Linked DNA regions of Homo sapiens. The protein of the gene in region 7 purifies or fractionates together with the protein of the main gene of each other region. This does not show direct contact. Each region holds a gene or a part of one and is shown on either strand. Other genes may lie near its edges. The genes, in order: GM2A, PM20D1, ACP3, SMPD3, LRRC32, CTBS and ST7.

What was found.
Region 1: the proteins of ST7 (region 7) and GM2A purify together in Homo sapiens (affinity purification with mass spectrometry; one large-scale study listed by BioGRID and IntAct). This does not show direct contact.
Region 2: the proteins of ST7 (region 7) and PM20D1 purify together in Homo sapiens (affinity purification with mass spectrometry; one large-scale study listed by BioGRID and IntAct). This does not show direct contact.
Region 3: the proteins of ST7 (region 7) and ACP3 purify together in Homo sapiens (affinity purification with mass spectrometry; one large-scale study listed by BioGRID and IntAct). This does not show direct contact.
Region 4: the proteins of ST7 (region 7) and SMPD3 purify together in Homo sapiens (affinity purification with mass spectrometry; one large-scale study listed by BioGRID and IntAct). This does not show direct contact.
Region 5: the proteins of ST7 (region 7) and LRRC32 purify together in Homo sapiens (co-immunoprecipitation; one large-scale study listed by IntAct). This does not show direct contact.
Region 6: the proteins of ST7 (region 7) and CTBS purify together in Homo sapiens (affinity purification with mass spectrometry; one large-scale study listed by BioGRID and IntAct). This does not show direct contact.

Annotation. Positions count from the first base shown.
Region 1 is NC_000005.10:151,266,685-151,270,184, reverse strand, and holds part of GM2A (ganglioside GM2 activator isoform 1 precursor), read right to left. Parts: intron 3,455-3,500; coding exon 3,272-3,454; intron 2,890-3,271; coding exon 2,734-2,889; 3' UTR 2,694-2,733; coding exon of another isoform or gene 2,545-2,693; 3' UTR 1-2,544.
Region 2 is NC_000001.11:205,840,133-205,843,632, forward strand, and holds part of PM20D1 (N-fatty-acyl-amino acid synthase/hydrolase PM20D1 precursor), read right to left. Parts: intron 2,620-3,500; coding exon 2,544-2,619; intron 2,084-2,543; coding exon 2,022-2,083; intron 1,758-2,021; coding exon 1,679-1,757; intron 192-1,678; coding exon 120-191; intron 1-119. UniProt on the Homo sapiens protein: Secreted enzyme that regulates the endogenous N-fatty acyl amino acid (NAAs) tissue and circulating levels by functioning as a bidirectional NAA synthase/hydrolase.
Region 3 is NC_000003.12:132,327,407-132,330,906, reverse strand, and holds part of ACP3 (prostatic acid phosphatase isoform PAP precursor), read right to left. Parts: intron 2,641-3,500; coding exon 2,545-2,640; intron 1-2,544. UniProt on the Homo sapiens protein: A non-specific tyrosine phosphatase that dephosphorylates a diverse number of substrates under acidic conditions (pH 4-6) including alkyl, aryl, and acyl orthophosphate monoesters and phosphorylated proteins.
Region 4 is NC_000016.10:68,365,009-68,368,508, forward strand, and holds part of SMPD3 (sphingomyelin phosphodiesterase 3), read right to left. Parts: intron 2,839-3,500; coding exon of another isoform or gene 2,731-2,838; exon of another isoform or gene 2,336-2,730; intron 85-2,335; coding exon 9-84; intron 1-8. UniProt on the Homo sapiens protein: Catalyzes the hydrolysis of sphingomyelin to form ceramide and phosphocholine. Ceramide mediates numerous cellular functions, such as apoptosis and growth arrest, and is capable of regulating these 2 cellular events independently.
Region 5 is NC_000011.10:76,660,748-76,664,247, forward strand, and holds part of LRRC32 (transforming growth factor beta activator LRRC32 isoform a precursor), read right to left. Parts: intron 3,120-3,500; exon of another isoform or gene 1,882-3,119; intron 762-1,881; coding exon 1-761.
Region 6 is NC_000001.11:84,567,941-84,571,440, forward strand, and holds part of CTBS (di-N-acetylchitobiase precursor), read right to left. Parts: intron 2,781-3,500; coding exon 2,642-2,780; intron 2,200-2,641; coding exon 1,991-2,199; intron 1-1,990. UniProt on the Homo sapiens protein: Involved in the degradation of asparagine-linked glycoproteins. Hydrolyze of N-acetyl-beta-D-glucosamine (1-4)N-acetylglucosamine chitobiose core from the reducing end of the bond, it requires prior cleavage by glycosylasparaginase.
Region 7 is NC_000007.14:117,215,501-117,219,000, reverse strand, and holds part of ST7 (suppressor of tumorigenicity 7 protein), read right to left. Parts: intron 1-3,500. UniProt on the Homo sapiens protein: May act as a tumor suppressor.

The DNA.
Region 1 (3,500 bases), on a different chromosome or scaffold from region 7:
TTGGCTCAGCACCATTTATTAAAGTCTGCTTTGACCTGCGATTGAAGATGCCACCTTTAACTCCTCATCCCCCACCCCTAAGAAACCTCACGGAACATATGACCCAAGAGCAGAGCAGACATAAAAAGATTAACTGAGCTACTGAGATTCGGTCAAGAATGTGAACTAAAAATGAACTGTTGAGAATAAGGCTGGAAGATCCAACAGAGGGAAACGGCTGTGGAGGTCATTGCCAGGTGAGGTGTCAGATCCCCGGCATTGGGAAGTGGTCAACTCGTGGGTTGGTAAAAAGAATTCACCAACAACAGTATAGGTTTGAAAAAGGAAAGGTATTAGAAGAATGCTGCAGAAGACTGCCATGGGGCACCTCGGTGAGAGGACTGAATGTACCACGGTGGATTTTTCCTTAGGGATATTTATGGACCTTAAAGCGGGACCGTGGGGTTGCAGTGAGTTTCAGCATGGCATTCCGGAGATGTACAGAAATTTTAGTTACTTCTAAGGTTTTTTTCGGGGAAAAGAAATCTGGAACCAGATGCCTGCTTTAGATAATAGGAAAGTCTAATTACTTTTAATTTTCCCCAAATAAGGCGTTTTGCCTCTGCATGGCCTGATAGTCACCAGGTGGTCTTTGCTCCCTTTTAAATTCCTCAGATAAAAAGATTTTGTCTCTGGGACCTGTTCAATGGTCACTAGGTGATTTTTGCTCTCCGCAGTCATGATGTGATGGAAAGCAAAATAGCAAACAAGGGAGCTGGATGGCGATGAAGCAGAGACAACAAGCAAGCTCAAGCTCCTGCAGAAGGGTCCGTCCCTGGAATCACCTCGGCTCACCTGTACCGTTCCAACAAACCCTTCCAACCAAAAGAGCCCCACCCCAAAAATGCTTTTGAAATCCTGAGATGTGATCAGTGAAATATGCAGCCAAGGCAAGGGGAAACTGTCCGCAAGTTAAAAAGATTTATTGCTATTCCAGGCTTCAAATGAGCCCAGAACTCAGGGCTGGTGTGTGTTTCAGAAGTTGTTATGATGTAACAGGGTGGTAGAAAAATCCAGGCAGTTTGATGTCGAGGCCACCCTCTCTTCCTTGGACCCCTGCTCCAAAAGCAGCTGCTGGTGAGGCTCTTTCCCATCTGCCTCATTCACCCAACAGGACTCCAAGACTGAGGCAGGCAGCCTTGTGATCCCCACAGCTCACAGGTGAGAGGCTGCTCATACCTCTCCTAGCACTGGAAGAGCCTTGTCCTTGGGACCGGACACTATGGCTTTGGCCCTGTGGAGGGAGAAACGGTGCCACAGGAGTTGTCTTAAGAGGACAAGGCATGCACGGTCTGAGATCAGAGGTTGTGACGTGGCCACCCATGAGCCAGTCCGTTTGGGACACATCACACTGCACAGCTTTTTAAAAAAATAATTAGCTGCCAATCTTTTAAAATGGTAAGATTTCATATACAAATCTGGATTTTTGGCTTCTCTAGGAGTAAACATTGAAACTTTTTTTTTGAGACAGAGTCTCACTCTGTCACCAGGCTGGAGTATTGCCAGTATCTGGCAGTTGTCTTCACAGACTGGCTATGCACTCTCCAACTGACTCCAGTCCTTGCCACCCTTAATTATATTTCCAACTGGAGACCAGGCCTCAGCAGCCTTGTATCAATGGGCACATGTGCTGTGACTTTCTGTGTAAGAAATATTTACATTGTAATAGCATCTTTAATCAAAAAGGAAAAATCGGCTGGGTGTAGTGGCTCATGCCTGTAATCCAGCGCTTTGCAAGGCCAAGGTGGACAGATCACGAGGTCAAGAGATCGAGACCATCCTGGCCAACATGGTGAAACCCCATCTCTACTAAAAATACACAAATTAGCCGGGCGTGGTGGCAGGGCCTGTAGTCCAAGCTACTTGGGAGGCTGAGGCAGGAGAATTGCTTGAACCCAGGAGGCGGAGGTTGCAGTGAGGTGAGATTGCACCACTGCACTCCAGCCTGGTGACAAAGTGAGATTCTGTCTCAAAAAAAAAAAAAGCGAAAAATCGAAATCAAGCCTGGAAGCAACATGTTTCTCACGGTTCTTATCAGTCATTTAAGTCTCTTGCTAGGCCCTGCGGGTACCTGAGTTTGTAAACAACAGAGCACTCCTAATATCTCCCCCAAGGGATTCCTCCCCCACACACCCTACCTCTCCAGGATACACTGCACCCTAGTATTAATTGGGCAAATCTAGAAAGGAAATAAAAATTAGTCACAGAAGTTAAGGGAGGAATAGACTAAGAGCAAATACTTTTGCCCCTTCATTGTAACAGGGGGCCGGAGGAGAACAAAAACGTTAATACTCTCACTTCGCTTTTAACTTAGTGACAAAAAAAAAAAAGAGTGAAAGAGAGAGAGTCATAAAGATTCTTCAGGTCCTAAAACACTCTGGTTCCCATTCCTTAACTGCTTTGGAAATGAACGAGGCTCTTTAGAGAGAATGTTAACGGGGATGAGTAACGTGGTCAGCCCAGCAGATGCCCTGGGCTATCAAGAACTGTCCAACTCATTCTCCCTTAGGTCAGGGCTGCTTGCCCCAGCCTAAAATGTAAGTGGTACAAAATGATTTTCAGTGAGGGTAGTGGACTCACTGTAGAAAGGGGATTAAAGGGGGGCAGAGAGTGGGAGTTTGGCCTTGGCAAACACAAAACAGAGGAAAAGGGACCTTCCTCACACCGCTCCATTCTGCTGTGGCAGATGCCATGTTATATGCCCTTTAGAGAGGCAGCGATCTTGATGCAGCCCAGACGCTTCCCACTGCTGCTCAGGACGCTCTCTATGCGGTAGTTCCCGGTGGTGAGCCAACTGGGCAGCTCCAGGTCAGGCACAACGAATTCGCTCTTGGGCAGTGAGTAGGTTCCCTGCGGGAAAGCCAGTGGACCGCCAGTCAGTGGGAGCCTACTGATGGGGTCTTTCTCCTAGAGCCACTGCTAGGATTGCAGCCATGAACTACCACCCCTCTTCCCATTCTCAAAACAGCCGCACAAGATGAGAGACGGCCATAGCACTGTAGAGCATGGATTATTATGGATAAAGGGCCCTGAAGATCACATCTAAGTTCAAGTCTCCCATTTCGTAGATGGATAACTGAGGCTCCCGGAAGATAAGTGATTCCTGATAGGTCACACTGGCTTACAAATCCAGAGACATGCAGATCTGCAGAAGGAGAATGCAAAGACCCTTCTCTCCAAACCCCATCTCTTTAGCCACAGGGGTAACGCTCTCTCCTCCCTAAGTACTTACTTCTTTGAAGGGACAGTGGCAAGGAAGCCCATAGGTACGCAGGGGCTCTGGGCAGGGCTCCCCAGTAGGAATTAACATGTCAAGCACATCACAGAAGTGTTCAAAGGTACAGCTGCCAATGTAGTCTGTGCATGGGATCTTGATCCAGAGGCCAGCCACCTCCTTCTCCAAAACTAAATCCACCTGGTAAAAAAAAATAAAACAAAGGTTTGAAAAAGGTTATAAGTGT
Region 2 (3,500 bases), on a different chromosome or scaffold from region 7:
AATGTTGGTTGAATAAATGGGACACTGGACCAGCCCTAGGACTGTAGTTAAACCCGGGCCCTGAGGGCCACATCTCCCTGATGCTGCATGAGTTGTTGTCTGGAACATATGGTACATACCTCTTGGACTGTCTGTCCAGGGTGAATCCGGAAGTTGACTGTGGCCTGGGCCACTGGGGGGATGACATTGAACTAGAGAGAGAAGCACAAAACCCTGGCTTGAGTCAACCTCAAATCTTCTACATCTGCCTGCCCAGGAAATGCTAATTTCCTCAGCTCAGGCAGAGTTGGCTGATTTGACTTAAGGACCCAAGGCTTAGCTTTTCTAGTCTGCCTCTTGTCTTCTCTGAACTAAGTGACATGTTATATTCAGAGCTGAAGGGGTGTCTCTGCTTTAAGCCAGACCTTCCTGCTTCTTGGTGCTGCAGGGGGTCACAGAGATGTTCAGAGCAAGGCTGCTTTCTCTGATCACCCAGATATCTCTGTTTTGGCCCCATGCTGTGCTATTAGAAGCCTTCTGTGTGCACTTTCTTTCCCAGCACACCCAGGACATTTCTGCAGCTGTTAACATTAGTGCTTACTCACGATGGGGCAGCCAGAGCCTCTGTTGACCCCCATCATGGCATAGCACGGGGCTCACATCAGGTTTGATCCTTGAGGGGGATGAGAAGAACACATACTCCTCACATATTCCTGGTCAGGCAGGAACAAAAGAGTGACAGAAAAGTAACCTTCAGAGTAAGAAAAGGACCCTAGTGCTGGCCAGTGCTCTGCCTGTTCTCACCTATTCCCAGCCAGTGACTGAGCCAAGACAGAGGGATCTGGCTTGTTCTCTAGGGCTGTTAGTATGTTTCTGAGACCCTAAGACCTAACATAACCTTTGGGAGCTGGTTCCCTCTTATCCTTGAGGCTGCTGAGCAATTGTTCTAACCAATCAGATAAGCCAGTCAGGCAGTAATTGCCTCCCCATTCCCGACCTTCTAGCAGGGATTGGTGGTTTCCCAGGTCCAGTTGTAAAATCTGACTTTTTTGCCTGACCAGGAGGAATCCAGGACTAACTGGAGAAAAGAGTTAGGCTATGGAGGGATTGTTCCTTGGAGGCCGGGAGACTCCCCAAGTGCATATCTTTCTTTGAACTCGTATGGTGCAAAAAAGCACTAAGTGGTCAGGGACAGAGCTGGGCTGTTGCAAATTAGCTGTTGCAACCTCTTTGTGCCTCTGTTTTCTCAACTGGGTATTGGGGCAATACTCATAGGACTCTTAGAAGGCTCAGATGGAGTAACAAAGTATCCTGGGGAGATGAAAACACCATTCAAATGTCAGGACACAGTGCTATTATTCTGATGAACACTACAGCTGACACACTGGACGGTCCAGTGAGTTATGCCAGGAATTAATTCAGAGGCATCATTCACTTATATACCCGATTACTAGAGTGCTTCAAGGTCACATTGTACTCTAGGTGAATGGTGCCCCCTGAAGTTGTGCTGGTGGTACTGGCAGTTACAAGAATGGTCTAACTCCCTTCAAGATTTCAGAAAGGCCTATGTCTTTGCGTGGCTAGGCTTGGATCCAGCTGACACACACAGAAGGAAGGAAGAGCCAGTAGATAGATTCAAGGAAGGGAGGAGTGGAGGGCGGTAGGGAAAAGCTATATGGGGAGGAACCAGGGATGTTACCTTGACCCCTGCTTTGAATATGGTGAGTGCCGTGGTGGTCCTGATTATTGCATTGGTTAAGGGATTTCTCTCCATAAACCTAAAACAAAAGGACCAAGGTCAGATGTTAGAAAGAACCAATGGGGTGAAGGAAAGGGCGGAAACATTACCCACTTTCCTGAACCTTGGGGATCTTTAAGACTGAGAGAGACGTCTTAGAGATGTCTTAAATATACACACTTAGAGATGCAGTATCTGGTGGCTGAGGGATGATTAGTCAGGCCCAGTTAAGCCAAGGAGAGGGGCCTGGGGGGTGGGTAGGTTTGAGGTGAGGGATGTGAAAAAAGGAAAGATAATACTTTACCTGCTTATAAGTGGTTCAAATAGCCATGGGTTGCTCAGGATTATATTGACAGGGAAGGGAAACTGGGAAAGAACAAGGTCAGCACCACAGGGTCACCTCTAGTTTAGCCTGGGTCTCTGAGACCTGAGTCTCTCTCTACTTTAGAGCTGCCTCAGGGGCCCTTAGCAGTCAGGAGTGCTGCTAAATTCAGTTAGCTCAATCCCTGCTAGAGGATCAGGAATAGGGAGGCAATTACTGTCTGGCTGGGCTTATCTGGTTGGTTAGAACAATTGCTTAGCAACCTCAAGGATAAGTGGGAACCAGCTCCCAAAGGGTAGATTAGGTCTTAGGGTCTCAGAAACACACTAACAGCCGTAGAGAACAAGCCAGATCCCTGTGTCTTGGCTCAGCCACTGGCTGGGAATAGGTGAGAATAGGCAGAGTGCTGGACAGTACTAGGGTCCTTTTCTTACTCTAAAGGTTACTTTTCTGTCCGTCTTTTGTTCCTAGCTGATTAGGAGTATGTGATACTTCTTCCCATACCTCATTTGCCAGTTGCTGCAATACAGTCACCACTGTCCCGCTTCCAAATATGATAGGCATTGGTGTCTGCTCCAATCTGGAAGAGAAACAGAGTCCTCAAGACTTAGCGAACCCCAGCCAAAGATCAGTGGCTTGAAGAGGAGAAGAAGGGAGATAGGAGGAAGTTTCAACGCTCCTGGCCAAGAGGTCTCTCATTCACCTCCCTCCCACCTCCACCAACTCAACATTCTGAAGATCTCAAAACATCCCCAGGAGCTTTCCCTGTCTACCAAGTCTGCATTAGGGTCCTTCTTTCCTCCCTCTGCTGTTCTCTAGAATCCTGTGTGTCCACTCTCATAGCCCATCCCATACTACAGCAGAATTGTCAGTCTCCTGACAATTTGAATGAATATAGCACTCCTTCCCACTTTGCTAAGAAAACCCAGCCAGGAGTAAGCTCTGCTGTTACAGATTCTGCTGTCCTCATTCATAGCCAGCAACTCTTATTTATTTTTGTCCTCCTGCCAGGACAGGTGGAGAATTTCGACAGCTCTACCAGTCATTGCCAATTTGTGATTCTAAATGTCTGGACTCTGGACTACTCTAGCTGCCTGACCTAGCTTCTGCCTGTAGGTCCTTGCTTTCCATATGGATATACTGACAGATCCTCTTCTGACTCCAGCCCTTGCAGGATACTGGTGGCTCTGTCTCTCCTGTGGCTCCCCCAACCCCCACCTTGGAAGGAATTCTCACTCCATTTGAGATGACCCCAGCCTGGTATCTGTGAGCCATGCTGAGATAACTCTTTATTTACACCTGTTGTATTAATCACCTGGATCTTTAGTCTGTCCTGGGCTTCCCCTTCTGTTCTTCCTCTAGTGTCAATTTTTTATAGCATAGTTTCCCAGCCCAACTTTAGGGCAGGAAGCTTAGCCTCCTCAAATTTAAAGTGGGAAAGTGCCAGGGCTTCCATCTCAA
Region 3 (3,500 bases), on a different chromosome or scaffold from region 7:
ATCAGAGATTCCAGCTCATTAGTTCCTGAGTGGGGCCCTGACATCTGCATTTTAACAAGTCTCCCAAGTGATTCAGATGCATGTAGTAGAGCACCATGCTTTGGAAATGCAGCATTCAAGTTTGTCTTTAATCCAGAGCCTTACTAGAGCTTTGGGAGCCAGAGAGGAGGTTGTTACGGTGGCTGCTGCTTGGTCCCACTTGTCATTTGCTTGTCACACTTGTCATTTGCTTGACCACCACTATAATCACTTCCCATCTACGATAGGGACAAGGTGGGAAAGGAATAATATACCGTGACCTGAGTAGCGGAGAAGCAGGTACTTTAGGTCTAATTGTGTTCTTACAGCTGACTTTTTAAATAGTCGTCTGTATGAAGCAGTGATTTTCACACTTTAGCATGCACAGAATCACCTGGAGGACTCAATAAAACACAGACTTCTGGGCTTTAATTCCAAAGTTTATGGTTCACTGGGTATTGCGTGAAGAATTTACATTACTGAGAAGTTCCCACGTGATGGTGATGCTGCTGGTCCAGGGACCACACTTTAAAAACCACTGATCTAGACAGCCATCATCTTATGATTATGCAGATTAAAAATACCTAGACAAGGCAGATTAAAAGTACCTAGACACTGATCTAGACAGCCATCATCTTATGATTATGTAGATTTAAAGTACCTAGACAAGGCTGGGTGTGGTGGCTCAGGCCTGAAATTCTAGCACTTTGGGAGGCCAAGGCGGGTGGATTGCCTGAGCTCAGGAGTTTGAGACCAGCCTTGGCAACATGGCGAAACCCCATCTCTACTAAAAATATAAAAAATTAGCCAGGCGTGGTGGTGCTCTCCTGTAGTTCCAGCTACTTGGGAGGCTGAGGCACGAGAATTGCTTGAATCTGGGAGGCAGAGGCTGCAGTGAGCTGAGATCGAGCCACTGCACTCCAGCCTGCGGGGACAGAGTGAGACTCCATCTCAAAAAAAAAAAAAAAAAAAAAAGTACCTAGACAAGGGTAGGAATCTGAGCCCTAGAACCTTGTCACTTCAAATGTGGTCCATGTACCAGTGCCATTGTCATCCTTGGGAGTATGTTAGACATGCAGAATCGCAGGTCCCACATCAGACCTGCTGAATTAGAATCTACATTTTGACAAGATTCCCAAGTGATTCATTTGCACATGGAAGCTTGAGAAATACTGCCCTAATAGAATCTGATGGGTAATCAAGGTTCTTCAGAAGAAGAACTCAGATCCTGCAGCCTAGAAGAATCTTTTGGTCTTAATGGGAAAACATAGCAACAGAACAGGAGTCTATACAGAGCCATAGGTATTAACAAGCAAATCTGAATTTTTGTAGCCTCTCTTTCATTCAAAGGGACAGAAGATGGGTAGGCTATGGTGAGAAGAGCTTTGACCTGGGAGACAGAAGATGCTGGTCTCAAATAGCCTGCCTGAGTTTTCTCCTCTATGAAATATAGTCAGGGCAGAAATTCTCAGCCTCGGCTACACATTAGAGTGAACTGATCACCAAGGAGCTTCTAAAAATCCCAATGCCCAGGACACATACTAGACCAATTAAATAAGAACCTCCCAGGCAGACATCAATATATTTTTTAAACCTCTCCAGATAATCCCAATGTTTTGGCAGGATTAAGACCCATTAGTTTTTGAGACATTCTACTCTAAAGATTCTGTGACATTTTCTTAATTAATATATTTAAACAGATCAGGACAGAAGCAATTCACCTGGCCTTGTGGCTCCAAACAGAAGAGTCATCCAATCTTACAAGCAAAGGGAATAGGGCTTTGGAACAGTGACTAAAGATGGCTTTGCTCCCCAGTTCACCTTCTCCTTAGATGCTCTTCAGAAAGTAGGGCTCCCTGTGTTTAACTGACCACTTATAAGGAAGGTCAAATCCCAATATATCCAGCTGACAAGAAATCATATTCTGATATCAGCACTTTGGGGAATCATGTTTCCCAATGCTGTTGATTCAGCTTATTGATTACAAGACTATTTTTCACTTTCTCATGTGAAGCCTAAGAAATTCAAATCCTGGCTTATGATTACCACTTGGCTCTCTTCAGCATTTCTAAGCTCATATAGTCTTTGTTCATGTACATCTCTTACATTTAAATAAAGCCAGAAGGGCAAAAAATATCAAAACAGACAATTCTATATACATTTCCCCTTGAGACTCATCAAGAATCTTTTTTTTTTTTTTTTTTTTTTTGAGATAGAGTTTTACTCTTGTTGCCCAGGCTGGAGTGCAATGGTGCGATCTTGGCTCACTGCAACCTCCACTTCCCAGGTTCAAGCGATTCTCCTACCTCAGACTCCCGAGTAGCTGGGATTACAGGTGCCCACCACCAATCCTGGCTAATTTTTGTATTTTTAGTAGAGAGAGGGTTTCACCACGTTGGCCAGGCTGGTCTCGAACTCCTGACCTCAGTTGATCCGCCTGCCTCGGCCTCCCAAAGTGCTGGGATTACAGGCGTGAGCCACCACACCCAGCTTCATCAACAATCTTTAGCTAAAAGTCCAACCAACCTGGGTGAGTTGGCCAAATCCTTGTGGCCATGAGGATTCCTTTATGGGGTCAGTGGGAAAGGTGTCAATGGGACTTCGGTCTCCATGCCGAAACACCTGAAAGTAGATGTGAGAGAGTGATGTTACAAACGTCACTTGGGTGTTTTGCTTCTGCTCATTATAATAGTTTTTTTTTTTCTAACTCATTGGTTTTAACTTTGGCTTCCCATTGTAATCACGTAAGGAGTTTTAAAAGATTCTGAGGACTGGCTTTCAACCTTAGTGATTTTTATTTAATTAGTCTGGGATGTGGCCAGGACATCAGGATTTAAAAAATCTCCCTGGGTAAATCTCTAGTTAAGAACCACTATTCTAAGTTCACTAACACTTTCACTGTGTTTCAGGTAATGTAAGAATCAAGATGATCAGCCATTAGAAGGCAGGTGACACATAATGGAGATCGGTTTGTACATAAGATAGGACAGAAAGGAACACAAAGCTGACAAGAGTACTTTACTGCAGACAAACTCTGATGAGAAGTATTCTTCCCTTAATGATTACAGTAATAGTGGTATAACTTTTTTTTTTTTGAAACAGTGTCTTGCTCTGTTGCCCAGGCTGGAGTGCAGTGGCGAATCCCAGGTTCAAGCAATTCTCCTGCCTCAGCCGCCTGAGTAGCTGGGACTACAGGCGCTTGCCACCACGCCCAGCTAATTTTTTTATTTTTAGTAGAGATGGAGTTTCACCATGTTGGCCAGGCTGGTCTTGAACTCCTGACCTCAGGTGGTCCACTTGCCTCGGCCTTCCAAAGTGCTGGGATTACAGGTGTGAGCCACCGTGCCCAACTAGTATAACTTTTTTTTTTTTTTCGAGACTGAGTCTTGCTCTGTCATCTAGGCTGGAGTGCAATGGCACCATCTTGGCTCGCTGTAGCCTCTGCCTCCCAGGTTCAAGTGATTCTCATGCCTCAGCCTCCC
Region 4 (3,500 bases), on a different chromosome or scaffold from region 7:
AACCCTACCTTGCGGGGCATGCAGGTGTGTGCAGGCGATGTACCCGACGATTCTTTGGTCCTGAGGTGTGCTTCCCACCTGCACCTGGGGGAGGAGGGGGTCAGTGCTGCCACCTGCCAGTCACTGTGGCCCTGAGAGCACAGGACACTGGCAGTGCCCACCCACCCATGAGGTCAGACCCTCACAAGCCTGGCTCCTGGCTGGATTCTGGGGTCCGAGTAGGGACAGGATGTGTCCTGCTTCTAGGGACTTACGGATCTGGGCCAGAGGCGGGTGCTGAAAGAAACTATTGGCCTGTGGCGTGGGGAGTGCTGGCGGCCATCTGTGCAAAGCATGGGGGAAGTGCCGAACCGCAGCAAGGCTCCCCGGAGGCCCAGGCCCTGCCATCTCCCAGTGACCAGCGTGGCCACGGCTCTCAGTTCCTTGTCCAGTCCTGTCTGTGGCTCTTTCCTCCCTCCCTCAGTTACACCCTAGACCTGGTCACACCCTGGTGCTTTCTCCCCCTGAAATCTCAGGGGGTTGCCCCTGTGCCATGGCGTGGCCTCAGAGCCCACCCCACACAGCAAGAGGCCCAGACCCTGCCCCTCCTGGCCTCGTCGCCTTCTGGCTGCATGGTGAGTCATCTGCTTTATAGGCCGTGGTCCCGTTGTCACCCGTCTTGGATGAGAGCTCCCTGACCTGTGTCCTAGGCTGGCCCCTGCACACCCCTGGCTCCATCCTGAGCCCACTGTGGCAGCATCCTCTTCAGGTCTCCCCTCTGCCCCGACCTCCTGCTTACCTCCTTTACCCAAGACGGAGCAGGTGACCCTGGCAGGATCCCAAAGGCTGGCTTAATACAAATTAGCATCTCCACTGTACCCTGCAGGCAATTCATAACTGCCCTACCCCAGGTGGGGGCAAGATGGAGCCCTTGTCAGTGCTCAGCCCAGGAGAGGTGAGGGATGGCCACAGAGATGCCCTGCACAGAGAGGCCGCTTACCAGCTCCTCATCCCCTGCCCCTGGGATTCCTTCCCTCCTGTGCCTCTGTACCCTCCCCAAGCCATGCAAATCCATTCCAGACTGAGTTTCCCAAGATGAGGAGACCCCAGACCCAAAAAGCACTCCAGGGAGGTGGCTGGGCAGGACACACTGCCTCTCCCAGTTGTTGGCTGAGGGCAGAGGGCCGCAGGGTGGGTGCCCCACATCTGTGGAGCTCACAGCAGCCCAAACGTCACAGCCCATCTGCTCCAACAGCCTCGGCAGGCTCCGTCCTTCCTTCACTGCTGCAGTCGGTCAGGCTGGTATTATCTCCTCCATCTGGACGTCCTCAGCAGCAGGTGCCCCTGGCTTTCTACAGCTCTTCATCCCCTTCCCAGCCCTAATGCACAGCCTTCCTTCCCCAGCACCTGGGGGTACGAACGTCTGGCTGTTCAGCCCCACAGGTTCACCATTCACTTCTTGCCCACAGACAGACCCAAACCTTAGCCTAACAGCATCCCCGCCCCCCGAATGGCTCTGTGAGATCACGCAGCATTGATGGTTCTGCTGCAAAAACAAAACACTGATGAAGCCGCCATGCTCAAAAGGCCACATGAGGCTGAGCACGGTGGCTCACGCCTGTAATCCCAGTACTTTGGGAGGCCGAGGCAAGTGGATCACCTGAGTTCAGGAGTTCGAGACCAGCCTGGCCAACATGATGAAACCCCATCTCGACTAAGAATACAAAAATTAGCCGGGTGTGCTGGGCACAGTGGCTCACACCTGTAATCCCAGCATTTTGGGAGGTTGAGGCAGGCAGATCACAAGGTCAGGAGTTTGAGACCAGCCTGACCAACATGGTGAAACGCTGTCTCTACTAAAAATACAAAAATTAGCCGGGCGTGGTGGTATGTGCCTGTAATCCCAGCTATTCAGGAGGGTGAGGCAGGAGAATCGCTTGAACCTTGGAGGCGGAGGTCACAGTGAGCCAAGATCATGCCACTGCACTCCAGCCTAGGCAACAGAGTGAGACTCTGTCTCAAAAAAAAAAAAAAAAATTAGCTGGGTGTGCATGCCTGTAACCCCAGCTATTCAGGAGGCTGAGGCAGGAGAATCCCTTGGACCTGGGGGGCGGAGGTTGCAGTGAGCCAAGATCGCCCCATTGCACCACTCTGGCCTGGGCGACAGAATGAGACTGTCTCAAAATAAATAAAAGACCACACGGGGGCGCCGTCTTCAGGCAACAACTGCTCCTCCTCCATGAGGATCATCTCAGGCCCAGTGGGCTCGTGCTGGGGTGGGGTGGCGACGCATGGACATTACTTTTCTGGGTCCTTACAACGGCTCAGGCACATGATAAAGTGATGCTGCTTTTACCGTTGAACACACTGAGGCCAGAAGTTGAGTTGTGGGCCGGGGTCACAGGCTCACATGGTCTAAGAGGCAGCTTCCAGTCGGATCTGTTTGTCGTGCGCTGCTGTGCGCTGCTCTGCGCTGCTTTCTGAGGGGCTGGTGTCTTTGCGGTTTCTCCCCGGCCGCCTGTTTGTTGGTCTTAAGGCGTCAGCCTCTCACTCATCCAACACTTGGTGTCACCTGCCCCGCGCTGTGTCCCGGACAGGGTTGGACACTCGCAGGGAGGCCTCAGACTGGGCCCTGCACGACAAGAACCCACTGGCCGGAGGAGTGACGAGGTCCTGCTCCCTCCCGCCCCGCTTCTCCCTCCTCATCTGCCGTGTGATCTCACCAAGATCCACTTGATTATTTGCTGGGCCTCATTGATTCCTGGCTCGTGGCCTTGGGAGCCGCAGAGCCTTGTGTTTCTCTTGCAAAAACAAGCAATCACACGAAAGGCTGTGCCTTTGAGTCCTGGCGGGCAAAGACTGTCAACGGAAGAGGTGTCCAGAATAAGGCTCTATTGTAGGTGAGGAAAAAGGGATTCCAGTCCCTTCCTTCACAGAGCCACATTTCCCTGAAGGCTCTGAAGTCCCATACGGGAAACCATGAGGGCCTTCCGGGAAGGAGGGGACCGCTGATTTCTGCAGCGAGTCCCTCCAGCGTCCCGGCCCCTCTCCGGCTGGGCCTGTCCCCAAGGCAGCCCCACGTACTTCACTTCTCCGCGCTGGGATCCGCGTGTGCTGGGCACACCACAGCTCTGCTGTCCTGGTGCTCTGTCTGATGGACAGACAAGACCCTGGGCACGAGGGCAGAGGAGCCCATGAAGGGAAGAGAGGATTGTGTGGCTGGCCGCTGAGGGAGCTCCATGAGGTGGTGTGGCCACACCCAGTGTGGGACCAAGACAAGCAGGGGCCAGGGGTACAGGAGCCCCTCATCGGGGTTGTGGCTGGGGCAGAGCTGGAGCTAAGGGTGGCGGGGGCAGGGGGGCGGGAGGTGGTACAAGGTGACGTTCAGACTTCCTGAGGCAGTGGAGGGCATAAGAGGAGTCACACCTGGCCTCAGACGAGGAGGGTGGCTGAAACCACAGCAGGGCTGATGCAGAGGAGGGGGCCTGGGCCAAGGGAGCTGGAGATGTGGGGTGCACCCA
Region 5 (3,500 bases), on a different chromosome or scaffold from region 7:
CCTGTGGGGAGCCGGATGAGGTTGTTGGACAAGTTCAGGTAGATGAGTCTCGGGAGCGCGGCCAGGTCGGGGAAATGGAGCAGTTTGTTCTCCCGCAGGTCAAGCCAGGTGAGCTGGAACTCAGCCTGGGGCTGGGAGGCCGTCTGAAAGGCCTCGATGCTGTTGCAGCTCAGGTCTAGCACCCGCAGCTGCTGGAGGCTGAAGTCGGAGATGCAGGTGAGGGAATTCCTGGAGAGGTTGAGATGGGTCAGGCGGGGCAGACCCTCGAAGGCGCCATCCTCGATGTCCATCAGCACGTTGCTATGCAGGTCAAGCTGCTCCAGCGCAGGCATGTCCCGGAAGGTGTGGCGGGTGAGGCGAGTCAGACTGTTCTCCGCCAGTGAGAGGGTATGCAGGCTGGGTGCCTCCCCCAGCAGCCGCTCCAGCAGGCCGCTGTACAGGCTGTTCCCAGACAGGTCCAGGGAGGTCACGCGTGGCAGGGGGCCCAGGCCACCAGCACTCAGCGCAGTGGCCATCGCCAGCCGGTTGTGAGCCAGGCTGAGGTGCTCCAGGTGGGTCAGGGCCTGGAAGGCTCCTGGCTGGAGGAAGCTGATCTCATTGGTGCTCAGGTCCAGGTGACGAAGTGCTGTGTAGAAGCCCAGGGGTGAGGCCAGGATACTCCGCAGCTGGTTCCCAGATAGATCAAGGGTCTCAGTGTCTGGCGGGAGCACCGAGGGGACCTGGAGCAGGCCCAGAACCTGGCACGAGACCTTCTTGTCCACCTGGGGAGGGGTAGGGTGGGGAGACAGCTGGCATAAGTGGGCACGGTAGGGGATGAAACCAGACATGTTTATCCAGGAACCCTGCCTGGCTGGGGAACCCTTCTCCCATGGACTCCCAGAATGCTCAACTTTCCCCCACCGCAGCCTGATCACCCCATGCCTGGATGACCCATCCGGCTCCCTGCCCCATCTCGGGCACCCAGCGCAGTAATGGGCATTAAGGAAGGAACTCGATGAAGGTTCCATGGGTGGACAGATGGAGAGATGATAGACAGATAGAAGGACAAATAAACTAACAAAGAGAAACCCTGTACTTATTATTACCCCTCTTACAGGAAACAGCCATATATCCCACAGAGTGACCCCAAGCCAGTGAGCAGCAGGGCAGAGCTGGGACCCAGGGCTCCTGATTCTATGTCCTAGGTCCCTTCTATGGGCACAGATAGTTAAATTTCTGGTGGTAGATGGGAATTTCTCCACTTTGGGAGAAATGTTTCCAAAAGGGAAAACTGTAATTTGTGCTCTGTCATCAGTTTTTATCTTGGCCTCCCTGCCTCAGACCTCATTCAGGCTCTCGTGTCATGGGCAGAGCCTGGGTCCTGGGGCCTGCCTTCCTTGTGGATGCTTCCGAGATGTGGCTTCCTCTCTGTTGCTGTTACCTCCTAGGAGGTGGCTTTCTTCCCAGGCTGGGTCAGGGGACCGGGCCCCTGGAGGTGGGAAGGGCCAGGGAAAAGATGGCCAGAGCCAAATCCACAGTCTTTGGTGATGAGACTGTGTTTGTGCTGTGCGACCTCCAGGAAGTCACATAACCACTCTGTTTTCTTACGTTCTTCCCCAGCAGCCACTCAGCATTTGACATCTTGGTTAATACTTTCAGGCCCATGGTCCCATTGGTCTTTACCACAGCCTGCCCATCTGATACGATCACCCCTATTTACAGAAATCTAGGCTCAGGGAGGGGAAGGGAGGTGCCAGGATTGCCCAGCTGGTGAGGAGCAGAGCTGGGATTTGAACCCAGGTTTTTTAACAACAAAAGGCCGAACTCTTGTTCTTCCACAGATGTGCCTTCTGGGACCAAAATTCTTCCTGTGCAAATGCAGGTCTCCCTCTTCTCTTCCAGGCCTCCAGGAACCCCAGCCTTTCCCAGAAAAAGGTCTGACTTCCACAATCACCGGGCTCAGGCTCACCGCCCCCAGCTTCTGTCTCCGCCAACCCGTTCTGACCCACTCACTGCTAAATGCCTGACAACTGCTCAAAAGCTCTACTCTGACAATGAGGCAGCTTGGCTTAAACTTCTCCACGGTGAAGTCCAGGATCCCCAGCAGGGCCTTCGAGGCTGTTTGTAGCCCCTGCCAACCTGTCCCCCACCTCCCACCCCAGCCCACATGCAGTGACCACAGCTGACCACTGCCCATCATGCGCTCCCACACCCACTGCTGGGGCCTGCTCCCTGAGCTGGTTATGCCATCCCCAACCAGATCCACACATGAACTCTTCACACTGAGCTTCAGGGCCTCCTCCACCAGGGAGCCCTCCCTGACTGTGCTTCCTCTCAGAGCTTTGCCCCGCTGAATTGTGGCTGTGTGTGTGAGGACCTGCTAGACAGCGAGCTCAGAGCAAACAGGGACTGGTTTGGTGGATGTGCATGCCTTGGACCTGACTAGCAAGTCAATTTTTCCTAATGAATGAGTCCCAGACATCATCAGTTTAGTAAAGGTCTGAGGCACTGAATCAATCACTTCTCTAGGAGGAAAGAAAATGCATAATTGATATTTTCAAAATATAGTCAAAGACGGGTAGAGCAAGAAGAGTTCAGCTGACCCACTTCCCAGATGTGAACACTGAGGCCTGAAGATGGCAGTGACTTGCGTGAATTCACAGTGAGCCAGTGGCTGAGCTGGTAGGGAGGGAACACAAGCCGGTGTGTTCCTCCCCTGGTCCAGCTCTGCGCTTCCTCCTGAGAGCCCCAAGGTGAGTAGGGGGAGGAAGAGACCTGCCCAGCCTCAGGCCTCCGTGTGGCTCTTCTTACTCCATGCAGCACAGTGACTCCATGTAGCCTCCAAGGGAGGCAGCTTCACAGGGGCCTCAGGAGGCCCAGGGATGCCCCGTCAGTTGGGCACCTGTGTGAACCTGAAACCTGCCCAGCTGCCTTGCCCATCCTTGCCCTTCCTCCCTCACAACCTCTCTGTCTGCAGGGGCCACTAAACATAGCCTCCTCCTCACAGCCCTTACCCCCTGGGGCATTCCTTACTTAAAGCAGAAACAACAAAATGACCTGTGATGGAGCCCCAGCTGTGTCAGGCTGCGTGCTGAGTGCAGAGACCCCCTACCCCATTAAATCTTCCCAGGCATTGTTCACCCTGTTCCTATTGTACCCCTAACGAAACTGAGGCTAAGGGGAGTGGGCTGCCCAAGATCAGACAGTCAGGGGCTCAAAACTCCCATTTGCAAATTCCTTTTCCTATTGGTGCCAGCCAAGTTCTGACCACTGGGCCCTCAGCTGGTCAGCACAGCAAAGAGCATCATGGACCCACTTACTGACTGTTACAGTGTGGGGGGCACCGTGCTGTGCCCCGCGTGTTACCCCCGGGCAAGTGCAGAGGCATACTGCCTCTGGATAGGCAAAGGCTCCCTGGGGCACCAGCCCCTGAGACTTGATCCAGGACACAAAGTTTGCCAAGCCCACAGCCCAAGACTGGCTTTCCATTCAGGGGCCCAAGACCCCTGCTCTAGAAGCCT
Region 6 (3,500 bases), on a different chromosome or scaffold from region 7:
CCTTTCTCATCTAGTTTTACATACTCCTACAGAATAGTTTCCCCAAACACTATTTTACACACATAACCCATTACACACAGAATAAAATGCACAGTCCTCAGCCTGACATTCTGGATCTTCCACAATCTGGCCTACCTTTGCAACTGTCCCTCCCACTAATTCACCTAACATGAACTTGACATGTAGCCCAAATTGTTCTCCTCACCTCTCAAGAGACAGAAAGAGATATTCCTACTGCAAGGATTTTGCTCAATCTCTTCCTCTCTGCTCTTTCACTACAGCTTAATCAGGATTGTCAAATAGGTTGTTTCCCATATATTCCACACATCAATTCTAACCTATTAGTAATCACTATCTAGAGAATGAAGGAAAAGTTTCTGAGGCCAAAATGTGTGAGGAGGAGAAGGGGTATTGTGGCCTGTATGCCAGGTATTTGCTGTTCTTAATCTACATTGTACTCTCCTGACAAGTTGAATTCCATACTGACAGATCTTCCCTATTTGCATAAAACCACAGAAATGTCAGTCGTCATATTGCTTATTATTTTACCAGTAATTCTCAAATTATTTTACCTGTAATTTTCAAATTCATGATGACCAACTCTACCAGAATCACCTAGGACACTTGGCAAAAATACAGTTCTCTAAGCTCTATCCCAGACCTACTGAGTCAATCTCAGTGATATGGTTTGGATCTGTGTCCCCGCCCAAATCTCATGTTGAATCGTAATCCCCAATGTTGGAGGTAGGGCCTGGTAGGAGGTAACTGGATTACAGGGGCAGATTTCCCCCTCCAGTGCTGTTCTCGTGATAGAGTTCTCACAAGATCTGATTGTTTAAAAGTGTGTGGCACCTCCCCACCCTCTCTCTTTCTCCTTCTCTGGCTGTTTGAAGTGCTGATCCCGCTTTGCCTTCCACCATGACTGTAAGTTTTCCTGAGGCCTCCCAAAAGCCAAGCAGATGTCAGCATTATGCTTCCTGTATAGCCTGCAGAACCGTGAGCCAATTAAACCTATTGTCTTTATAAATTACCCAGTCTCAGGTATTTCTTTATAGCAATGTGAGAACAAACTAATACACTCAGGATATTTTAAACAAGCACTCTCAGGTAATTCTGAGACAGGTTTAGGAATCACTGGTTTATAATACTCATAATGCTCTATACTGGAATACATTTTTAAGCATTCTGTTAGATATCAAGGAGCTGCACCCCGTCTTCAAAAAAACTCATTGTCTAGCCTATTACTTCTTAACTATAATCACCAATGAAACTTTTTTAAAATTGGGGGCTCTGGGATTACCCAAAACCTTTTGAAAAATCATTTCTGGGAGTGAGTTCACAGTGTGCATGTGTGTGGAAAAGTAAACACATGCTTACTTTTCCTTAAGACCTATGGTTATCTTGATATGTGGCCAAGTTTGAGGATCACTGATCTGGGTTCACATTATCCTCTGTTACCCATCTGTTGTCTGGCAAGATAGCTTGTGTTGTTACCTTCTGCTCTAATCATGTTCATTATGGCAGTGGGGAAGCACACTGCCTATTGTTATAGCTGTCACAGTTCTGTGTAGTTAGTCCTTTAAGCTTTACTGGGCCTTGGGTGCAAGTAATTCAGAGACTGTAGAGCAAGTGATACACTTCCCCAGAACTACCTCTACTCCTGGGTTGTTTCTGTCCTGCATTGGTAAAAGCTGGTTAGGCGCCCCCCTTGATTTTTGTTCTCCCATTGCCTAACACTTCTAACTGTGCTACAAGGCAAGTAGTGGGGGTAATCCCAGTGTTGTATTTTGCTGTGAATAGAGAATAGATTTAGGGCTTTAAAATTCCTTAAATAAGAACACCAAAGGCTCCAGAAAAATTTTTTAGGAAATAAGTGCTGAAACTCTTTCCCATTGCATTACTATAAAACAAAGATTATATTAGTTATACCCTCATGAGTATATTCTGATATGGAAAATATGAGGTTTCCAAAAAATAAATGAGTTTTTACCTGTGATCCCTCAATTTCACGATGGAAAGAGTCTGTAGTTTCTTTGACTAAAGCAGTTAATGCATCATATTCAGGTGATAAACAATTAACTTCTTGCTCTATATCTATATTAATTCCATCCATATATTGTGTTTTGGCCAAATTAAGTTTTTGAGCTATCCAGGATGCTCTGAAAGCAGGATCAATGATATCCTTTAAGGATACATCTCCTGTGGAAGAAGTATATATCTTTTGAACATGTATGCAAAAACATTTCATTATTTTGGAAGACTAAGCCCTTAACTGAAGTTTTCCAATGGAGAAAGAATATACCAAAGTAACAGAAAGCCATTACTCATGAATCTCCAAAATAACCATTATAAATCATTAGTAAAATTGTTCTGAAGTTAGAAACAGAAATTGTGGACTATGATTAAGTAAAGGTCATAAGGCTAATTTGGCAGTTAACATTTTGCTCAAAACCATACAGTGGTTTAATTCTTTTAAAAAGATCTGTGTTTGTGAAATGAATTACACAGTATCTAAGATTAATTATAGGATCCTAACAAAAACAGATAAACATAAAAGGACTTTTTTGGAAAGTCGGGACTATAGCAAGTGATACAGATAAATTTCCCAATTGCTGCACACATAGATCTGGAAACAACATACCTTTAAGTACTACTCTGGCTCCTTTTGAATGAGCGTAGCACATAAGTTCTGAGTCATATTTTCCAAATGTTGCCACAGTTGTAATCTGTGACCAATCATAAGATTTCCAAGTTTTCTGTCCAACATCAAACACAAAGACCTGCCAGAACAAAGATGAGCACCATCATTTAAACCAAGAATATTATGCTGACCGTCCAAAATACCGTTCATCAAACATCACCATACACCAAACACTATGGTGGCAGTGAGAGTACAAGTGCATAAGACATAGGGGTCCCAAGATAATTGGTGGCAGGGGTAATTAGCCAGGCTGGGAAAGAGGGGAAGGATGGGCCAGGAAGGAAGAGTGGCAAGTGCCAAGGCCTGGAGGCAGAGACAACATGGTGGTTGCGTAACTAAATATTTAGTATGGCCGACGTCTAGAATTTGGGGAGAGAGCATTAGTGAAGGACCAGAGAGTAGTAGGCATGGATTAAATCATGAAAGGCCTCATAAGCTCTGTTGAGAAGTTAGTACTACCTTGTTTATCCTGAGGTAAAGGGAGAGAATAAAAGCATTTTTAAAAGGGGAAGGTATGCATTTTAGAAAAATATTTTCAGCTGCAGTGGGAAAAGGATTAAAGAGACACCAAAACTGGAGGCAGAATACAGAAACTGTTGGAGGAATCCAAGTAAGAGATGATGGTGACCTCAACTAAAATTGTGGAGCAGTGGCGTTAAGTGAACAGATCTGGAAGATCCTAAGGAGGCAAAATTGACAGGACTTTGTGACTAATCGAATGAGTAATCAAAGGAGAGAAGTCTGATAATACTCAAGTTTCTGGCTACTGCAGATGGAGCCATAAATACATTTACTGTTT
Region 7 (3,500 bases):
TTATAACAGGGAACACTTCTACAAAGGAGGCAAGGCTTACCCCACCAAGCTATGTGCCAGATGAAATGTCAGAGATAAATTGTGATGGATTACTCACACATTCATCTCACACTATATATTCTGAGCAAACCTCACAAAACTGGGTGGGGACAGAGGTGCAGAGGGGTTGGGAAGCCATCAGTATCAATGCCCAGGGTTTCATCATCTACTAAATATTATTAAAATGTTATGGGCACTAATTCAATATAGCTAAACAAATAGTAATCATGCAAACGTGGATTAAAATGCTTCCCCAAGAAGCAAATGTGGATCGACTTGTTGGAGTTTGTATAGATGTACAAATATGAAAGGTATTCTACCAAATTGATTTAAAAAATACTGTTTAAGTGGATTTGAATTCCAATCAAGATGAATAAAAACAAAAATCTAAAAATGTATAACTCGGGAGGTGTTTCTAAACTTTATTAAAAGTTTAAATCTTAACTTTTATCATGTGGGAAAATTGATCTGGAGAGATTAATTATCTGTATTTTGATGATGTTAGGCCACCTAAATTCTGCTTTTGTAGCATCAGATGACATTAGGGCTCACACTGAATTACGGCTTTCCAATCAATCCATCCTTTCCCATGATCAAGTGTGTTACTCTCCCTGTTACAATGTCATCAGCATGTTAGTCTCACTGTTCCTATGAACAGTACTCACGGAGGTAATTTTTCTTCAACAGATGTCCTCTTACTACAGCCTGCTGTAGATATAAAATATAAAAGCTCTACCCTACTCTGGGAATGTCAGATAACAATCCTTGCCTTCATGTATGGTAGTGAGGGATGGGGGCAACATGCAGCAATATTTTTAGTTTTAAATGATACATTTCAAGGAATCATAGCTACATCCTCAGCTGTGTAACTACCAGAGCCTTCTCAAAATGCTGTCAATGTACATATTTATCTTTTGCATACTTATTTCAAACAGGAATCAGAAACAAAGAATGTTCTCCCTCACAAGAAATGACAAGGTTCCATTGTAACCAGCATCAGTGCACATATGGTATTTATTCTGGTGTCTGAATATTATTTAAAAGTAAAAACATTATGTATGTGATTCCAGCATTTGGAATGCAGTCAATCTACACCGCAGTGGTATCACTCTGAGGTTACAGCACATTGCCACGGAGAATATAAATCACTATAAATGTGGGATTAGAGCAGAGCCAGTTTGCTGGCAGTTTGCTGAGGTAAAAATGTTATCAATTTTCCTCTCATAACAGAAACCTCTTAAACAGAGATTAAAACATTAAAAACACCCCAGACTTTAACTCTGCTTAAAATGAAAGGCTCACCCTAGTTCAATCAGACCTTTTCTTGCACGCAAACAAAGATGACTTTTGCCCGCTAGAACAAGCAAGAGAGGAGTTCTTTGCACAGGTTGTTAACACACAAAGATCATTCCAAGGAACCAACATCTCTCTCATTAGAACCAGACTTTCAAGAGAACAAAACACCCCCCACAAAAACAAACAAAAACAAAAATAAGCCTTTTAGTGCCTTTATAGGATACACTAAAATCTCTTCTGGGAAGCACTGAATTTAAACTTAAACTACATTACGGCAGGATTTTAATGCCATTTCCCATAAATGATGGCTGCTACAAAAGCATCTGAAAAATGTGGAAAAACCTACGTGGGAAGTTTTTTTTTTTGTTTTTTTTTTTCCCAAATCCAGATTCTCCATGTGCAAAGGGCTGCTGGGTTGCTGTAATTAAGTATCTGTTCAAGTTCATATGATATAAATAAACCCTCAGTTTTCAAAGTGGCTATAAATTTGAATGCTAAATTTTATTCAAAATTGAAGTCAGTTTGCACTTCAGGGAGTAATTTTTTAAATGAAATACAGGAGTGCAAGATCTTGAGAGTGTTCAACCATAGAAATCTAATGGTTGGTTGGTGTCTTTTCAGTCAAATGCTACATGTTTTTCACTCCAATATTTGGCATGCATATAGAATTTTGTGCGTCAAGTTGGCCTTTTCCTTTTTCTAATTGGTTCTGGTCTTTTTTGGAGAGGTTAGAGACACAATACAACTTTAAAAAGAGTGCATGTGTACACACAGCCACCCACCCACCCACACCCTCTTCCCGGATTGCCCTCCACCCCCATGATTATAAAGATGCTTATGGTGCTCTTAAAATCTCTCTCATGTCAGTTGCCATTTGCATTGAGCTCAAAAAATAATATTAAGGCTTTTGGCTTCACTAAACAAAAGCAAATACAATTTCTGCTTGCAATTCTATCCTTTACCCACCCTGCAGTGCAGGGCCCAGTCAAGTGTGAGATAAGCAGGGGAGGTCCAGAGAGAGGCCGGTAGAGGCACTGCACAAGCCTTGCCAGCGTCACCTCCCACCTCCTGGTCCCTTTCACTGCTAAGACATGCAACTGCTCCATGACAGCCTTGTGCCTTTTGCCAAATGTCCAGAAATTTTGCGAATCTAAGTATTAAAAACACACTGATTTGGTGGTGCTAATAAGAATAGAAAAAGGTCATTTGAACAGATCTATTTTATGAATGAATACAGACCTAAAAATCCTTAAGAAAACACAAATTTCAGAGGAATTAAAAATACACATGTATTGGGTTAAAAACAAAACAAAAAAGTTAGGCCACTCAGAGTGAATACATGGTATATAAATGATATTTCTGCACTTTCCTCTGTGTGCCATCCCTTCCCCTACCTTGATTTTGGTTGTGAATTTGCTGAAGGGTCAAAATGAAACTGAGAATTAGTGAAAGAACAGATCATGCCTTCACAATCAAGTCTGTGGCACAATGCTGTCTTCTTCTATCCCTGACCAGACACATTTTCTAGGTTCCAAGTCTATCAGTGCTGTTCCCGTCAGAGATTCTCAATTGATACTGGGGGGAAAAATAAACAGAACCAAAGAAATGACAAAAGGATGGATACATGAACAAGTTAATTCCTGATTTTCCCAATGACTTCTAATGACCTCTTCTTACTCTACCTACTAGATAGGCAAGGATAGAATGTAATCAATCTTAGAGTATCTTAGATAATTTTATACAGATTATTTGTAACAGAGGGAACCGAGTTTGAATCCCAGCTCTACTTCTTATAATCAGTTGCTTGACAAAAGGTGAGTGGCTTCTTATGTGACAAGCACACAAAGGTGAGCCCAGCACACACTGCCCCTGCCCTCATGGAGCTCACCACCAAGTGCCAGAAGCAGGATCCAATCATGAAAGTAAGAGCAAAGGTTCCCACGGTGATGAATACCTCCAAGGGAGTCATGGTGCTGTGTGTACATAATGGAGAAGCGGCCAAAGTGGCATCTAAAGGATGAGCAGGACCTGCCTAGGCTCACTAGCGTATGACTTTGCGTGGGTCGTTAATCTGTGTCCCTGTCTCTTCATCTGTAAAATGAGAATACCACAGGCCTCAAAAGGCTGGTAAAGGAACTAAGTGTAACAGCAGAGGTCAAGGCATC